Linked DNA regions of Homo sapiens. The protein of the gene in region 3 interacts with the protein of the main gene of each other region in a biochemical or structural test. Each region holds a gene or a part of one and is shown on either strand. Other genes may lie near its edges.

What was found.
Region 1: the proteins of MYO6 (region 3) and CLTB form a complex in vitro, tested with the Homo sapiens proteins (one study listed by BioGRID).
Region 2: of the proteins of MYO6 (region 3) and PAK1, one has a biochemical effect on the other in vitro, tested with the Homo sapiens proteins (one study listed by BioGRID).
Region 4: the proteins of MYO6 (region 3) and AP2A1 form a complex in vitro, tested with the Homo sapiens proteins (one study listed by BioGRID).
Region 5: the proteins of MYO6 (region 3) and CLTC form a complex in vitro, tested with the Homo sapiens proteins (one study listed by BioGRID).

The regions. Positions count from the first base shown.
Region 1 is NC_000005.10:176,406,518-176,410,040, reverse strand, and holds part of CLTB (clathrin light chain B), read left to right. Parts: intron 1-3,332; coding exon of another isoform or gene 3,333-3,503; exon of another isoform or gene 3,504-3,523. UniProt on the Homo sapiens protein: Clathrin is the major protein of the polyhedral coat of coated pits and vesicles.
Region 2 is NC_000011.10:77,331,077-77,334,599, forward strand, and holds part of PAK1 (serine/threonine-protein kinase PAK 1), read right to left. Parts: intron 1,792-3,523; coding exon 1,654-1,791; intron 1-1,653. UniProt on the Homo sapiens protein: Protein kinase involved in intracellular signaling pathways downstream of integrins and receptor-type kinases that plays an important role in cytoskeleton dynamics, in cell adhesion, migration, proliferation, apoptosis, mitosis, and in vesicle-mediated transport processes.
Region 3 is NC_000006.12:75,885,239-75,888,738, reverse strand, and holds part of MYO6 (unconventional myosin-VI), read right to left. Parts: intron 2,736-3,500; coding exon 2,645-2,735; intron 1,896-2,644; coding exon 1,745-1,895; intron 1-1,744. UniProt on the Homo sapiens protein: Myosins are actin-based motor molecules with ATPase activity. Unconventional myosins serve in intracellular movements. Myosin 6 is a reverse-direction motor protein that moves towards the minus-end of actin filaments.
Region 4 is NC_000019.10:49,797,985-49,801,507, reverse strand, and holds part of AP2A1 (AP-2 complex subunit alpha-1), read right to left. Parts: intron 2,707-3,523; coding exon 2,556-2,706; intron 2,182-2,555; coding exon 2,013-2,181; intron 1,904-2,012; exon of another isoform or gene 1,880-1,903; coding exon 1,742-1,879; exon of another isoform or gene 1,541-1,741; coding exon 1,358-1,540; intron 548-1,357; coding exon 450-547; intron 119-449; coding exon 1-118.
Region 5 is NC_000017.11:59,678,872-59,682,394, reverse strand, and holds part of CLTC (clathrin heavy chain 1), read right to left. Parts: intron 2,999-3,523; coding exon 2,876-2,998; intron 1,484-2,875; coding exon 1,338-1,483; intron 1,101-1,337; coding exon 917-1,100; intron 749-916; coding exon 556-748; intron 125-555; coding exon 1-124. UniProt on the Homo sapiens protein: Clathrin is the major protein of the polyhedral coat of coated pits and vesicles. Two different adapter protein complexes link the clathrin lattice either to the plasma membrane or to the trans-Golgi network.

The DNA.
Region 1 (3,523 bases), on a different chromosome or scaffold from region 3:
GTAGCCTCAGGTTGCCCATGGTGATGTCTGGTTTTGGGAGGGAGAGGTCAAGTGGCCCACAGCAGCATGAGATGAAGGCAGCGCAAGGCCTTCCCTCACCACTGACGGGAGGCAGAACCCAGGCCATCTCCACACACAGGGCGGGCCCTTTGATCCAGAGATTCCACTTCCAGAATTTTCCCAAAGGAAATAATTGGACAAGGCCACCCAGATTCTTTGCAGGGTTATTTATAATGGCAGACAATTTGGAGACAACCTAAGTGTCCAGCATCAGGGAACTGAATAGATAGATTAGAAAACCAGGCTGTTGTTAAAAAGGGCAATCAGGGCCGGGTGCAGTGGCTGACGCCTGTAATCCCAGCACTTTGGGAGGCTGAGGTGGGTGGATCACGTGAGGTCAGAGTTCAAGACCAGCCTGGCCAACATAGTGAAACCCCGTCTTTACTAAAAATACAGAAAATTAGCCAGTCATTGTGGCAGGTGCCTGTAATTCCAGCTACTCGGGAGGCTAAGGCAGGAGAATCACTTGAACCCAGAAGGTGGAGGTTGCAGTGAGCTGAGATTGTGCCATTGCTCTCCAGCCTGGGAGATGAGAGTGAAACTCTGTCTGAAAAAAAAAAAAAAAAAAAAAAAAGGGCAATCAGATCTTCCTGTATTGACGTGAAAAGATGTCCACAATATATTAAGTGGAAAAAGCAGCTTGCAGAATAATATACACAGTATGGTCCTTTTTTTTTTTTTTTTTTTCAATTTTAAAAATATGTTTGGGCTGGGCGTGGTGGCTCATGCCTGTAACCCTAGCACTTTGGGAGGCCAAGGCAGGTGGATCATGAGGTTGGAAGATTGAGACCATCCTGGCTAACACGGTGAAACCGCACCTCTACTAAAAATACAAAATTAGCTGGGTGTGGTGGCACAAGCCTATAATCCTAACTACTTGGGAGGCTGAGGCAGGAGAATAGCTTGAATCCGGGAGTGGGAGGTTGCGGTGAGCCGAGATCACGCCACTGCACTCCAGCCTGGGCAACAAGAGCAAAACTCTATCTCAAAAAAATAAAACTAAAGGTTTGCACTACATATCTGAAAGGATGTGTACCAGCTGTTAACAATGGTTAGCCCCAAGGGTGGGGTGGGATGGGGATAAGAAAGGGGCATTCACTTTCACTGGGTTGTTTACAAATTCTTTAAGTGTTTTTATCCTGCAAAAAACGAGGAAAACCCAGCCGGGCACGGCGGCTTACGCCTGTAATCCCAGATTTTGGGAGGCCAAAGTGAGAAGATCATGTGAATCCAGGAGTTTGAGACCAAACTGGGCAACATAGTAAGACCCCATTTCTGCAAAAAATGAAAAATTAGCTGGGGCAATAGTGTGTGCCTATAGTCCCAGCTACTCAGTAGTCTTAGGTGGGAGGATTACAGCTTGAGCTGGGGAGGTCCAGGCTGCAGTGACTATGATTACACTACTACACTTAGCCTGGGTGAGTCTTTTTTTTTTTTTTTTCCTGAGATGGAGTTTTGCTCTTATTGCCCAGGCTGGAGTGCAATGGCACGATCTCGGCTCCCTGCAGCCTCCGCCTCCTGAGTTCAAGTGATTCTCCTGCCTCAGCCTCCTGAGTAGCTGGGATTACAGGCACCCGCCACCACGCCTAGCTAATCTTTTGTATTTTTAGTAGAGATGGTGTTTCATCATGTTGGCCAGGCTGGTCTCGAACTCCTGACCTTCAAGTGATCCACCCACCTCGGCCTCCCAAAGTGCTGGGATTACAGGCACGAGCCACCGTGCCCGGCATGACAGTCTTAAAAAAAAAAAAAAGAGGAAAACCCTAGTAAGTGTATTTCTAGTTAAGACTGCTTCTGTCCGCACCCACCTAACTCTCTTCCCCTTGCATACACACAAATCCATTTTAGTACTCTGAGGGAACTCAGACCACAGAGGCATGCAATAGTCCTCACCTCGGCCCCCCAGCCAGATGCCTGGTGGGGCTAAACCTCCCCTCAGAGCCTTCATTCCCACTCAGACTGGGCCAAAGAGCCTTGATCCTGGGGTCTTTGGCTGTGGGATCTTCTGAGCCCCGCCCTGGAGGAGCTGGCTTCTTGAATCCTCTGGGGGAGTAAACAATACTTATTTTCTTATGTAAGAGGGATGGGCTGGTACCTTATGCAGGGAGACTGGCCAAGTCCTGTTTCTGGAAAATTACTCAACTATCAGCAAGCTGGAAAAGTCCATCTCTAGGACTTCAGCAGCTTCATGTCTAGTTGGGCCCGAGGGAGTCAAAGAATGAGGATTTGCTTCTGTGCAGCTTGGTAGATCATTAAGACTTAGGCTGCCCAGGCTCTCTGGCCACATTCAGAAGGACTTTGCTTGACCCCACAGTTCTGTGTCCTAAAGTGCACCTGGAGCTGGAGATATGCTTGGAACCACAGAAGTATGTAGAACATGGCCGGGCACAGTGGCTCACGCCTGTAATCCCAGCAGTGGGAGGCTGAGGTGGGTAGATCATTTGAGGTCAGGAGTTCAAGACCAGCCTGGCCAACATGGAGAAACCCTGTCTCTACTAAAAATACAAAAATTGGCTAGGCAGGGTAGTGGTTGCCTGTAATCCCAGCTACTCAGGAGGCTGAGGCAGGAGAACTGCTTGAACCCAGAGGCAGAGGTTGCAGTGAGCTGAGATCGCACACTGCACTCCAGCCTGGACGACAGAGCGAGACTTTGTCTCAAAAAAGAAAGTACCTAGAACACTCTGAGCTGGATCATTTACCTTTCCTAAAGATTAGCATCACGAAGCTCAGAGAGGTGAAGTGGTGAATGCAAAGTCACCCAGGAAATCAGCCACTTCTGGAGTGCACCCCATTTGACTTGGCCCCCCGCCTTCTCCCTCCCGACCTGTCAGCCGTGGGTGAGCTGTGGGTGAATCTGAGGAGCCCGGGGCCTCCTTTCCAATCTGAGTGAGAACTCTTATTCTCACTGTTACTAAGAATCACAGCAGGTGTGTTTATTTGTAAATCATATCACATCAGTGCCATCCGAGAATCCTTACAGGCAGGGCAGGGTCACAGATGAGCTGAATCACTCAGAAGCTTAGTGGCAAAGCCCCAGCTTGCCTACATCTCCTGGGCTCCGACCCGGTGTGCTTTGCATTACGACTCTGTTGCTGGAACTGGCTGGCCACAGCGCCTGGGTCACAGGTGGAAAGCCCCAGCTCTTTAGGATTGAGCATAGCAGGTCTGGCCTGCACCTGCAGGGGGAGGAGAAACCTTGGCCTGTGCACACCCAACACTTTCAAGGATCCCAGACAGAGCTTTTGTGCTTCCTTTCTTCCTCTTTTCTGCAGCCCGTGCACCACCAGCGGGTCCAGCTACAAACCCAGTTGCCAATACAGCCTAAGGACGAGCCTGCCCACAACTATTCCAGTTCCATTTGGCACAGCCAGGGGCAGGGACAGAAGGGCCCTGCAGGACTCCGCCTCCCCACCTCTGCACAGATCCTCTCTCCTTTCCCCTAATACTCCCATCATCCTCCTTT
Region 2 (3,523 bases), on a different chromosome or scaffold from region 3:
ACAATGAGATACCATCTCACACCAGTTAGAATGGCGATCATTAAAAAGTCAGGAAACAACACGTGCTGGAGAGGATGTGGAGAAATACGAACACTTTTACACTGTTGGTGGGAGTGTAAACTAGTTCAACCATTGTGGAAGTCAGTGTGGCAATTCCTCAGGGATCTAGAACTAGAAATACCATTTGACCCAGCCATCCCATTACTGGGTATATACCCAAAGGATTATAAATCATGCTGCTGTAAAGACACATGCACACGTATGTTTATAGTGGCACTATTCACAACAGCAAAGACTTGGAACCAACCTAAATGTCCAACAACGATAGACTGGATTAAGAAAATGTGGCACATATACACCATGGAATACTATGCAGCCATAAAAAATGATGAGTTCATGTCCTTTGTAGGGACATGGATGAAACTGGAAACCATCATTCTCAGCAAACTATTGCAAGGACAAAAAACCAAACACTGCATGTTCTCACTCATAGGTAGGAAATGAACAATGAGAACACATGGACACAGGAAGGGGAACATCACACACCCGGGACTGTTGTGGGGTCAGGGGAGGGTGGAGGGATAGCATTAAGAGATATACCTAATGCTAAATGACGAGTTAATGGGTACAGCACACCAACATGGTACATGTATACATATGTAACAAACCTGCACGTTGTGCACATGTACCCTAAAACTTAAAAGTATAATAATAATAAAATGTAAAAAAAAAAGAATTAAAAAAAAAGAAAGAAAAATAAAACATAAATAAAATAAAATAAACTTATGTTCCTTTGCTAAAAATGTATCCTTTGAGCTAATCCCAGCAAAATATAAGTTGTGTAAGATTTGGGTGTCAGAGACCCGTTTCTCAACAAGACTCAAACAAACTCTGCCAGACTAATTCAAACAGAACAAAGGAAGTGCTAATGAAAGATACAAGCAGGCTGGTCATGGTGGCCCATGCCTGTAGTCCCAGCACTTTGGGAAAGCGAAGTGCGCAGATCGCTTGAACCCAGGAATTTGAGACCATGCACGGCCAACATAGCAAAACCCCGTCTCTACAAAAAAGTTTTTAAAAAACTAGCCAGGTATGGTGGCGTGCACCTGTAGTCTGAGCTACCTGGGAGGCTGAGGTGGGAAGATCACTTGAGTGAACCCAGGAGAGGAAGACTGCAGTGAGACAAAATCACGCCATTGCACACTCCTGCCTGGGTGACAGAGTGAGACCCTGTGGGGCGTGAGAGGAAGGGGGAGAGGGAAGAGGGGGGGGAAAGGGAAGGGAAGGGAAAGGAAGGGAAGGGAAGGGAAGGGAAGGGAAGGGAAAGGAAGGGAAGGAAAGGGAAAGGAAGAAGAAAGGAAAGGAAGGAAGGAAGCAAGCAAAAAAGCTACAAGCAAAGCTCAATAGGTGCTCAGAAAATAGATTGTAAACTGAGCCTAGGAGAACGTGTAGAGTTTTAACAGGCTGAGAAAGGCTAAGAAAATAAATGAGCAAAGGCCCAGGGATAAAAGGGCAGTAGGAACAGAGTGAGTGTAGGAAGTGGTAGAAGAGAAGCCTAGTTCTATAATATCCAGTACCTTACAAACATGAAGTAAAAAAGGCCTGGTTTAGTGATTCCCTGAATTAGGTGCTTCCCTGCATAAGGACAGTTACCTGTAGCAGCTCTTTAGCTGAACCTCTCTTCTCCACATCCATCTCGAGACAGCGGTTCAGAAAGTCCCGGAAGATAGCTGACAGCTTCTCTGGGTTCTGAAGTTCTGGGGTCCCATTGGTGGCAATGAGGTACAAGGCCTGGCAATAAAAATGGTGAATCACCTTGAGCTCCAAATGAGGCTCTCTCTTGTTCCCCATATACAAGTTCTAGAAATATGGTCAGCTGCTTTATGCTCTAGGATGCAAAGTAGCAGCTGTGTATATATACTGGAAAGAGTATGACCTAAGGATCAGGTTGAACATTTAAAGGCCATGGGACTATGTACAACTTCCCTGTCTGTAAAGTAGGGATGATGATAATGCCCATCTCACATGTCTGTAAAAATAAAATAAGATAGTGTATTTGAAAGTACTTTGTAAACTTATGAAATATGTTACAGACCTAAGGGTTTATTCTTCTTCTTCTTTTTTTTTTTTTTTTTTTTTGAGATGGAGTCTTGCTCTGTCGCCCAGGCTGGAGTGCAGTGGCACGATCTTGGCTCACTGCAACCTCCACCTCCCAGGTTCAAGCAATTCTCCTGACTCAGCCTCCCAAGTAGCTGGGATTACAGGCACCAGCCACTACACCCGACTGCTTTTCGTATTTTCAGTAGAGACGGGGTTTTACCATGTTGGCCTGGCTGGTCTCAAACTCCTAGACTCAAGTGATCCTCCTGCCTCAACCTCCCAAAGTGCTGGGATTACAGGCGTGAGTCACTGTGCCTGGCTTTATTATTATTCTTGCTTACACATCTGAAGGGTTTATTATCCATTTAGCCTGTTGAGTTAAACATCTGCCCAGCTGCTGGCAGAAATTATTCCTGGTGCCTTCACCTCAGTCATCCAAGAACTGATCTCTTCTAGCAGGAAAGGAATATTAAATGTAAGTGAAAACTGTTGCCACCCTAGTCCCCTAAATGAAGCGTCTCCTGGGAAAGGTAAAGAAAAACAGTAAGACTAAATCTTTACAAGCACTCAGCACTTAATTCAAAGAGTACTTACATAAGCACTGTCTAATTTAATGGCCACAATTAACTCTGGGTAATAGGGCAAGACTTATCATCTTCACTTCACAGATAGGGTCCGGAAACATAAAAAGATATGTCTAGGGCCGGGCGTGGTGGCTCACTCCTGTAATCCCAGCACTTTGGGAGGCTGAGGTGGGTGGATCACCTGAGGTCAGGAGTTCGAGACCATCGAGAACAGCCTGACCAATATGGCGAAATGTGGTCTCTACTAAAAATACAAAACTTAGCTGGGCATGGTGGCAGGTGCCTGTAATCCCAGCTACTCAGGAGGCTGAGGCAGGAGAATCGCTTGAACCTGGGAGGTGGAGGTTGCGGTGAGCTGAGATCACACCATTGCACTCCAGCCTAGGTGACAGAGTGAGACTCCATCTCAAAAAAAAAAATAAAATAAAAATAAAAAAATAAAAAAATATGCCTATGTCTAGGATCATTCTGTCTTATTTCCAACATATCCCAGCAATTATCATCTTCAAATATCTGCAAGGCCGTTCTAAGGGAGGGAAGAGTATGTTGTATGTGGAGTCAGAGGCAAAGCTGGGATCAAAGGATAGAAACTACAGAAGGTAGTTTCAGTTTGGTGCACTGAAGCAATTTCCAATAATCAGAGATATTCAAGGATGACATGAGCATGTAGATGACCACCTACCAGCAACAGTGCACAGGGAATTCCTGCACTGGATGGGAGGTGGGAATAAATGAGAAAATAAAAGCAATCAGAATAAATTTCACATTTGCCCACACCAAGATTACCAACCTATTTGCACCTGTGTTGAGATGCTCTGTTACAAGGGATAAATTGTCCA
Region 3 (3,500 bases):
GCATAAAAGAGAATGTAAGGTAAAGTAAAAACAAGTAAAATTATACTGTAAAAATAACAGTAACTAACTGAATTTGTTAATGTGGAGGTATTAAGAGGTTTTTGGTGGTTTCTCCAATTTTTTTTTTTTTTTAGCCAGGGGTCTCACTGTCACCCAGGCTGGAGTGCAGTGGTGCAATCTCTGTTCACTGCAACCTCCATCTCCTAGGCTCAAGCAATCCTCTAACCTCAGCTTCCTTGGGACCTCAGGCTCATACCACCATGCCCAAATAATTTTTTGTATTTTTGGTGGAGACAGGTTTTGGCCATGTTGATCAGGTTGGTCTCTAACTCCTGAGCTCAGGTGATCCCTGCGCCTGGGCCTCCCAAAGTGCTGGGATTACAGGTGTGAGCCATCACATCTGGCCTCCAAATTTTTTATAGTATTATATTACTTTTATCATTTATTTATTTATTTTTAGACGTAGTCTCACTCTGTCGCTGAGGCAGGAGTGCAGTGGCACAATCTTGGCTCACTGCAACCTCTGCCTCCTGGGTTCAAGCAATTCTCCTGCCTCAAGTAGCTGGAACTACAGGCGCGTGCGATCACACCTGGCTAACTTTGGTATTTTCAGTAGAGACGGCGATTCACTATGTTGGCTGGGCTGGTCTCAACCTCCTGACCTCAAATAATCCGCCCACCTCGGCCTCCCAAAGTGCTGGGATTACAGGCAGGAGCCACCATGCCCCACCACTTTTATTTTTATTTATTTATTTTTTTTGAGACGGAGTCTTGCTCTGTCACCCAGGCTGGAGTGCAGTGGCGCGATCTCGGCTCACTGCAAGCTCCGCCCCCCCGGTTCACTCCATTCTCCTGCCTCAGCCTCCCAAGTAGCTGGGGCTACAGGTGCCCCCCATCACGCCTGGCTAATTTTTTTTTTTTGTATTTTTAGTAGAGACAAGGTTTCACCATGTTAGCCAGGATGGTCTCAATCTCCTGACCTTGTGATCCGCCTGCCTCGGCCTCCCAAAGTGCTGGGATTACAGGCGTGACCCACCGTGCCCGGCCATTTTCTTTTTGCTCCAACTTTAGTTTTCTTTTTTCATTTTTTTTTTTTTTTGAGATGGAGTCTCACTCTGTCACCAGGCTGGAGTGCAGTGGCACAATCTTGGCTCACTGCAATCTCCGCCTCCCAGGTTCAAGCGATTCTCCTGCCTCAGCCTCCCAAGCAGCTGGAATTACAGGTGCACGCCACCACACCCAGCTAGTTTTGTATTTTTAGTAGAGACAGGGTTTCACCATGTTGGCCATGATGGTCTCGATCTCCTGACCTCATGATCCGTCCGCCTCAGCATCCCAAAGTGCTGGGATTACAGGCATGAGCCACCATGTATGGCCTCCAACTTTTATTTTAATTTCAGGGATGCACGTGCAGGATGTGCAGGTTTGTTACACAGGTAAACGTGTGCCATGGTGGGTTTGATGCACAGATCATCCCATCACCTAGGTATTAAGTTGCGAGGGATATCTTTCTTAGCAACAGAAGAAATGGCATAAAAATTGTCTTCTTTAACTTTTTGCTATGAAATTTTTCAAACATAAAGAGTAGAGGTAATAATGATGAGCATGTACTTGCCATCATTGAGTCTCAACACATTTTGTAATTTTGAAAAACTAAGGACGTTTTCTATACAATTTCAATACCAATAACAAAATATATTAAATTACATAAAAAGTCAAAGTCATTCGGGTTGAAATTACATACCTTAATTTTGGCCATCAAAGTATCAATAGAAATTTCCAGATTCTTGATCTGTTTATTCATCTCGGGTTTTCCATCTTTCAACACACTGACTACCTCATTAAATTTATCAAGTCGTTTTTTCAGTGTGCCCACCTTAACCAGACCATCAATGCTGTAAAAATAATACTTCATTAGAGCTTAATTTCATCCTTTAGTACTTTTGGCAGATTTTTCATTTATAAAATGCTAAACAGGGTATTTCACTTCTGTTTTCAATATTATCTACTATTCTCTTTTTCAGATCTCTTGTTGAAGGCTAAAAAAAATCAAATATGAGTGTGAATGACACTGATGCCTGTCAATGGGATTAAAGCCTTCTACAACTTTGAGAATTCAAATCACAGAGGAAATTAATCTAGTCTCTTTGAAAAGGTGTGATGGATCAATAGAGATATTCAGACTTCCAATTTTTAAAAGTGTAAATTAAAAATGAAAGATTCAAATAAGAAATACACTAATTTATAATGGGACAATGTAATTCCTACAGATAATCTTGAAAATTATGTAAACATATTAGTGAGATGTTTTTTAAAAAATGTCACCTTGACATTATCAAGAAACTCAAATAACTAAAATAATCAGAATAAAAGAGCTTCTCTCAACTACTTACTTCTTGTTTTATAGTCTTTACACATTTTTGTATGCCACTTCAAATCCTTTTATAGAATGAGGCAAGTAATAAGGTAATAAATGAATTAACTAACTTCAAATAAATATTACAAATAAAAGACTAATACATCATTTTACAAAGAACATGAGAAAACCTGAGTATCCAAACTGCTTTTTATTATGACTTTATTGTCATTTTGTATTACAGTAACTAGGTTTTGTAGAGTTCTTTTTAGGAACTATTCATCTTACCGAGGTTTGTGTCTCCTCTTGCAAAGCCACATTCGAATAGTTTTTTGCATTTTAATGCAGGCTTCAGCTCGATATTTTATTTTGTTTTTCACTATGTGTAAGAGTAAAATAAAATGATAGAAAATTATTCAGTTTAAATCTAACATATATTAAAAAAACTCATTTTCACAAAGTAATGCTCAAGAAACATGAAATCTTGACGACCATATTATTATATATCAGACATCAAAAACAAAGTTTTAACACCTTTTTTGTTTGTTTTTGTTTTGACAGTCTCAACCCAGGCTGGAGTGCAATGGCATGATCTTGGCTCATTGCAACCTCCACCTCCCAGGTTCAAGAGATTCTCGGCCGGGCGCGGTGGCTCACGCCTGTAATCCCAGCACTTCGGGAGGCCAAGGCGGGCGGATCGTAGGGTCGGGAGATTGAGACCATCCTGGCTAACACGGTGAAACCCCGTCTCTACTAAAAATACAAAAAATTAGCCAGGCATGGTGGCGGGCGCCTGTAATCCCAGCTATGGGAGGCTGAGGCAGGAGAATGGCGTGAACCCGGGAGGCGGAGCTTGCGGTGAGCTGAGATCGTGCCACTGCACTCCGGCCTGGGTGACACAGCAAGACTCCATCTCAAAAAAAAAAAAAAGAGATTCTCATGCCTCAGCCTCCTGAGTAGGTGAGGTGGGACTACAGGCACACACCATGCTGGGCTAATTTGTGTATTTTTATTCGAGCCAGGGTTTTGCCATGTCGGCCAGGCTGGTCTTGAATTCCTGACCTCAAGTGATCCTCCCACCTCAGCCTCCCAAAGTGCTAGGATTACAGGCGTGAGCCACCACGCCCAGCCAGTTTTAACATTT
Region 4 (3,523 bases), on a different chromosome or scaffold from region 3:
GGCCTTGGTCTCGGGGAAGAGGTTGATGAACTTGATGTAGGTGGACAGCAGCAGCGCCCGCGTGGCCACGCTGCACAGATGGAACTTGGAGTGGAGCAGGGAGAACTGCACTGGGGGGCTGTGTGCAGGAGTGGGTGTCAGCGGGGCCAGGTTCCACTGCCCTCTCCCAGAAACCCCCTCGAGAGGTGCCCCTCCCTAGGATGGACCCGTCCCAGGACCCCAAGCTGCTGGAGGGGAGTGGCCCTCCCCAGGCACCAGACAGGGGCCGCAGTCACACTCTGTCCACGATCCTGGGACTAAGCTCCTTTCTTACCCTGCTAGGTGGATTGGGGTGGAGGCCGAGAGGATGGGAGCCCATCACTGCCTGCCCTGAGACCCCTGGGGATCCCCCAAGCCCTGGACCCCTCAGAAGCATGTGTGTTCTCCCCTGCAGGCTGAGGCTCCCTCACCTGGAGCGGGGGTCCCCAGCAATCAGGTTCCCAAACTCCCCAAGGATGTAGCCGCCAACCTTCACCATGTTCTCGTGACAGGCAGGGGCCTGGAGCGCCTGAGTGGGGTGGGGAAGGGCGTGGAGAGGACAACAATGAGCGCCCTCTCCGGGATCGGTGGGTGCAGCCACCTACTGACTGGTGGAACACTGAAAGCTCTGCTGCAGGTGGGGTTATAGGTGGGAAACTGAGTCACAGAAAGGTTGAGTGACGGGCCCAAGCTCACACAGGAAGTAAAACAGGGCTGTGGGCCGGAAGCAGTGGCTCATGCCTGTAATCCTGGTACTTTGGGAGGCCGAGGCGGGCAGATTGCCTGAGCTCAGGAGTTTCAAACCAGCCTGGGTAACATGGTGAAACCCCGTCTCTACTAAAAATACAAACAAATTAGCTGGGTGTGGTGGCGCGTGCCTGTAGTACCAGCTACTGGGGAGGCTGAGGCAGGAGAATGGCTTGACGCTGGGAGGCCGAGGTTGCAGTGAGCCGAGATCGCACCACGGCACTCACTCCCCACTCCAGCCTGGGCAACAGAGTGAGACTCCGTCTCCAGAAACAAACAAACAAACAAACAAAAAACAGGACTGTGTGGGGCCCCTTTCCTGGGGCAGAGGGAAACTACCGAGATCCGGGGGCCAGGACTGCACACTGGGTGCCCCATGCCCATGCCCTGGGGACTCCTCACATCAGGCCCATGAGACCATAGCCCTGGGTCCCCTGGGTTGGCCCAGAGAGGCAGAGGCCCCATTTTGAGGTCACGGCAGTGCAGGAGAAGGAGGGTGGCTGCGGGCTGGCAGGCGCCACGGCCCCGGCCATCCTTGCTCTGCCTCTAGGTCCTGTCGTGGGGTCATAGGGTCAGGGTCAGGGATGCTGACCTCAAAGACGGTCTTGGCGGCATAGCCCTGGACGTCATCACGGTTGGTGACGATCTGTAGCACACGGTACCACACCTCCTCACTCACGTAGTCGCCCGCAATGCGGATGAGGTTGAGGATGGTGTCCACGTACCAGCTGTAGTCCACGGCGTACTTCTCGGCCAGGATGGCCACCTTCAGGACCTGCCGCCGGGGCGTGTGAGAGAGAGTGTGCCGCAGGCCATGTCGGGCTTTCACTCACCTGGATCTGGGCTCACCACTGCCCCCATCTGGAGACCCAGGAGTCCAGGCCCCAGCCCCTCCTCCCTTAGACTTAGGAATCCAGGCCCCCAGCCACCTCCTGCCTCAGACCCAAGAGTCCAGCCCGCACCCCACAGCACTCACGATCTCCTCGCGGATGGCGTAGTCTGCCGTCTCCAGGTACCGCAGCATCTCCGACACGATCTGCTTGGCATTGCTCCGGTCACACATGGCGTAGAGGAGGTCAGCCGCCCGCTGCCGCACGCTGACGTCCCGCTCCGTCTGAGGGCGGAGAGCAGAGCCCAGGTGTGTTTTAGACTCCCTGTTGGCACAGGGTTGGCCACCCAAGGGCCTCTGAGCCTCTGGTCTTTCTGAGGGGGGTGGCAGGCCCGGGGTGGGCTCCAAGGGCTCACACCTTGAGGGCATTGATGACGGTGTCAATGTGCGTCTTGACGGCTTCATGGGAGAACTCGGAGCTGGCCAGCGTGCACATGCTCTCCAGGGCCAGGTAGCGCAGGTTGGTCTCCCGGTGCTGCAGGAACTGGCCCAGCTGGTTGCAGGCCCGAACCAGGAGGTTGGGCTCACTGCCAGCAGGGGCCACAAGAGAGGGATGGTGAGAGAAACTGACAGGAGAAGGTGGAGGACTCGGGCCCCAGCTGACCCATCTCACAGCCCCCAAGGATCCAGGTCTTAACCTTGCCGGCCTTGCATCGCAGTACTGCACCTCCAGTGACCCAGACAACTGGGCCTTTGAGCCCAGAGAAAGATACCTAGCAATTCTGCCCCCAGGAAGGGCCCCAGCACCAACCTCACAGGTGACACTTCACAGCCCCATCCTCCTCCTACCCTACCTAAAAGTCAAGATTCCCTGCCCTCTGCCTAGGACTCAGGAGTCCGGGCCTCCATGCCCCTCTTTCCTGGCCCCAGGCATCAGGCCCTGATAGGCCCAGGCGGGCACCTGTCATAGTGGATGATGAGGCTGATGGTCTCGAAGAGGATGGCGTTCTTGGCGTTGGAATGCTGCACCTTCTTGGATTTGGGGGGCTCCTGGGCCTTGTTGAGCACAGTCTCCAGACATTCCACCAGCCGCCCCTTCACAGCCGCATCCTCTGGGGAAACGAAGGGGACGCCCCCGGCTGAGTGTCCTGCCCACCTGGCACACCTGCTGGGGTGGTGGCCATGCCCCAGCTCCTGTCTTCCAAAGGAGGAGCTCGGGGTGCCTCTGACACTCGAGAATTCTGCAGCTCAGGGCCAGGGTCTCTGCTCCCTCAACCTCTTCCCAGCCCAGCAGAGATGGTGAGACAAGGCACCTCTGGAGACACAAGATCTATCCCCAGACCTGGGCTCTCCTCCTGCTCTGACCCTCTCGGGCAAGAGGTGGCACCATGTGAGCCTCAGTTTCCTCATCTGCAGCTCTGAGGCTCCTTAGGTTTCTCACAGAGCAAAGGAAGCTCCAGGAACCTTCCCCAGAGGTGCCCCCAAACCCAGGCCTTCCCAAGGACTGGTGTGAGTGCTGAGCAGCCCCTGACAAAAATGCACAAGCCACCCACCCAAGTGTCCATTCAGCAAGAGGCCACTGCAGGCACACTCGGTGCCATCCTCCTGGCCTAGAGGCTGGGAGGCCAAAGGAGACAAGGCTCAACCAGGTGCCCCCTCACCCCCCAGAGCTCTCCACCACTGACAGATGCCAGCCAGCAGCTCACAGGAGCACCAATCACCACGTTTCCTAGAATGTGACGTGTTTTCAAGTGTATGCAAGAGCTGTCAAGCGTTCCAGCAAAAAATGGTTCCGCAGATTTTTCTGCAGAATTTTCCGCAGGAAAATTCACCAGATAGAGGAACAAGCTAAAATACACCACAAGGCAGCAATGAGCCCAGTCGCCACCATGGGACACACAGCAATGGCATCTCCTGGTTTCTCCATAA
Region 5 (3,523 bases), on a different chromosome or scaffold from region 3:
AATTCTTCTAACTCTGCAAGGCGGTTTGTTTTAGCCAGTGCGAATATCAGTTCTGTCTCCACATAGGACTCTCGAGCCTTCTTACGGGCCATCTGCAAGTACTTCACCAGTTCTTCCCAGTTTCCTAAGTATAGAAAAAGAAAAAATATATCCAAACACTAACATCCTAGTTTATCTTTCACCCAAGTAAATGAAAATTGCATTCATTTCCTTTTCAAGGAAACATGGATAATGACAAATGTAAACCGTGCAATATTTCACTTCTGTATTATCACGGACCAAATGAATAGATGAATTCTTTTTCCTTAAAGTTTTAAGATTAGAGCACTATCAGGATTTTATGAGACTTCAAAAACAGAAGATTCATCTTCCCCACTTGTAAGTTTTGTGAACTTACAAATTCACAAAATACAGCCTCTTTTTATCTGGACTAAGATGGAGCACTAAAAGAAACCATGCAGTATCCAACTCTTCTAAAATTCAGAATAGACAGATATCTTAATGCTTAGCTTAATCATTTTATGAGGTTTCAATACATAAGGTAAGAAGTCATACCACTAGTATTGGCAGCCTGAACAACTTCCATGTAGGAGGAAGGATCATCTGCTTTGATATAAGAATCAATGGCTTCTTTCACCATTCCTTTCTGCAACTGGGCTTTTGCAAGTTGACTCCAGACCGCAGGTTCATTGCAACGTTCAGCAAACTCATATGCCCGATCCAAGTTTCCAATATGCTCAATTAAGACCTAAGTATCCAAGTTTGAAATTAGGGTTAGAGTAAAATCAATCCTACCCAAAGCAATTACATTTAAGCTGTTAGTATTTTATTGCTGCTCTATTGCCGTAGCAACCAATTAGGCCCACCCTCATAGCACAGTGTTTAGTAATTCAACTTAGGTAATCTGAAGATTTACCTGAACTGCTGAAGTATTGACATCAAATTTCCGGAAAATGGCAAATGCTTCTTCAAACAGCTCATTGCTGATGGCGATATTGGCAATATCTGGGGCATCATAATTATCCAGGCGGTTAATATACTCCATAACACGTGTACGGTCAGCCTTAATTGCAGTGAGGATAAGGAGGTTTTGCAGATTCCTTTAAGAAAAAAAAGAATATTTTAAATGCAATATTTTAAGTTTATCCGACATAAAAAATAACCACTGTGACTAACGGAGAGGTTTTTGTCTCAAGAGGTAGGGTAGGGGGGAGGATATTAGAAGAGTGAGAATTCAGGCAACTTTCTCTGATCTTTTTGTTCCTTCCCAAAACTGATGGGCCATAATTTATTAAAGACTGACTATAAATAGCCAATGGATCCCTCTGAAAGCATACCTGTGTTCACTGAATACAGAGTTATCAAGGACAATTTTCTCCAGCAGTTCAATGAGTTCATTAGGAAGGTCTGCAGTCATGAAAGCCTTTACAGTTACTGACACTTCTTCAGGGTCCTGAGTCTCAGACAAAGCTGTTTGTACAACCTACAGAGGATATATGGGACATAAGTACTGAGAATCAAGTTGGTTTTAAAAAAGCGTAAGTTGGCCTCTCATTAGAAAACTTGAAATAGGCAGAAAAGAATGAAGTAGGAAAAAGACCTTTAAATTTACATAGAGAGGTCTTTCTACACAAATCTATACAATATGTATAATTGTGTTGAAAAATTACTCTAATTATATAATTTCTATCTTTTCCCTGATTAAAACATTATCCAGGCTAGCAATCATCATTATCACTTTAATGGCTACACATAATTCAAAATTCAGCTACACAGATGTGGAATTAAAATATCGGTAATTCGTCTGGTTTTGGCTATTTGCTTGGTTTTCTAGATGCTGCAATGATTTCCAACCATCGCCCCCACCCCCACAACCTTCCCCTAGGAAGCTTTGTAACTACTTGGGAATGTTGCTTAGAAGTGCTTCCTAGGAAAGGAATGAAATATTAATAGCCTTCAACCTATTCGTTTCCAAAATATTTTATTTATACTTATCTCAGGAGAATTTAAGACTCATTATAACAACTCTTCTATTTTTAGAACTTTTAAAATATGTTGTCTATTTTATTTAGGTATAAAACCCCATCTCATTTGCAGTTCTATACTTCTTATTAGTAAGATATAACACTGATGCACTTGGTCTTTTGTATTTTCTCTTATCCTTATATTTTTCTGACTTATTATCTTGAAGTTTCCAATCAATTTAGCCACTTAAGTGTTAATAATAGCAATCTTTAATGTTTAGTTTGTTATTTTCCTTTTAAACTATGATGAACCAAGAGAGTTTTATATAATTAAGTCAGGTCTTTTGGGATGTATTTTCTTTTTCTTTTTTCTTTTTGTTTTTTTGAGACAGTCTTGCTCTTATCACCCAGGCTGGAGTGCAATGGCGTGATCTCGGCTTACTGCAACCTCCACCTCCCGGGTTCAAGCGATTTTCCTGCCGAGTAGCTGGGATTACATGCACCTGGCTAATTTTTGTATTTTTAGTAGAGATGGGGTTTTACTACGTTGGCCAGGCTGGTCTCGAACTCCTGACTTCAGGTGATCCACCCACCTCGGCCTCCCAAAGTGCTGGAATTACAGGCGTGAGCCACCGCACATGGCTTATTTTTCTTAATGTATGTTATATACATATTTATACTTATATAAATGTACATTCATTTGTATATAATGTATATAATCAATTTACATTCATTATATACAAATGAATGTAAATTGAATATATATAAATTTTAATTTTCTTCTACTTTGTATTGCTTTCTCTCATAGTTATATATGATCCATTTGAGTACATGATGAGGGAAAGGATTGTATTCATAGTTAAAAATGTATAATTTTTACTGACAGCCATAAACACATTTGCCAATGTTACCTGGTCAATTAGGGGTCTCCTGTAAGGATTGCTTTCCAGCAGCACGCTGCCCCACAATTCTGGATCCTTTCGACGTACCAGGTAGCGAGAAAGACTTTTGAAGAGGGAATTCTCATTGCAAACCTAAAGAAGATATGATAGATTAATTTCAAGGTAAAAAGTAAAGGACTTTTTATAGCATTTTAGAGGGTATTTCCTATCTTTTAAACTATGTTTATTGATAATCTTACTGATATTGGATCTAGTTTTGGACTTTGATTCATGTACCAGTAATATACTGTTTTAATTATATAGACTTTGTAATACACAGTTCAACATCTGGTAGGACTAGTCCACTTTTACAGTTTTCAGTGTTTTACTAGCTGTTCTTGTGTGTTTATTTTTCCATGCGTATATGCACATGTATGTACATAAATGAGCATATGTATGTACATAAATGTAACTAAGCCCTGACCACTGAAAGATCTTAGAAGCAAATACACTAAAGCTCAGATCTTGACTTCTAATATTTTCAGAAAGTAGGAGTCTTGCTCTGTTGTCAAGGTTGGAGAGTGCAGTGTTGCGATCATAGCTCACTGCAACATTGACCTCCTGGGCTCAAGTGATCCTCCTGCCTCAGCTTTCTGGGTAGCTTGAAACCAAGTGCAT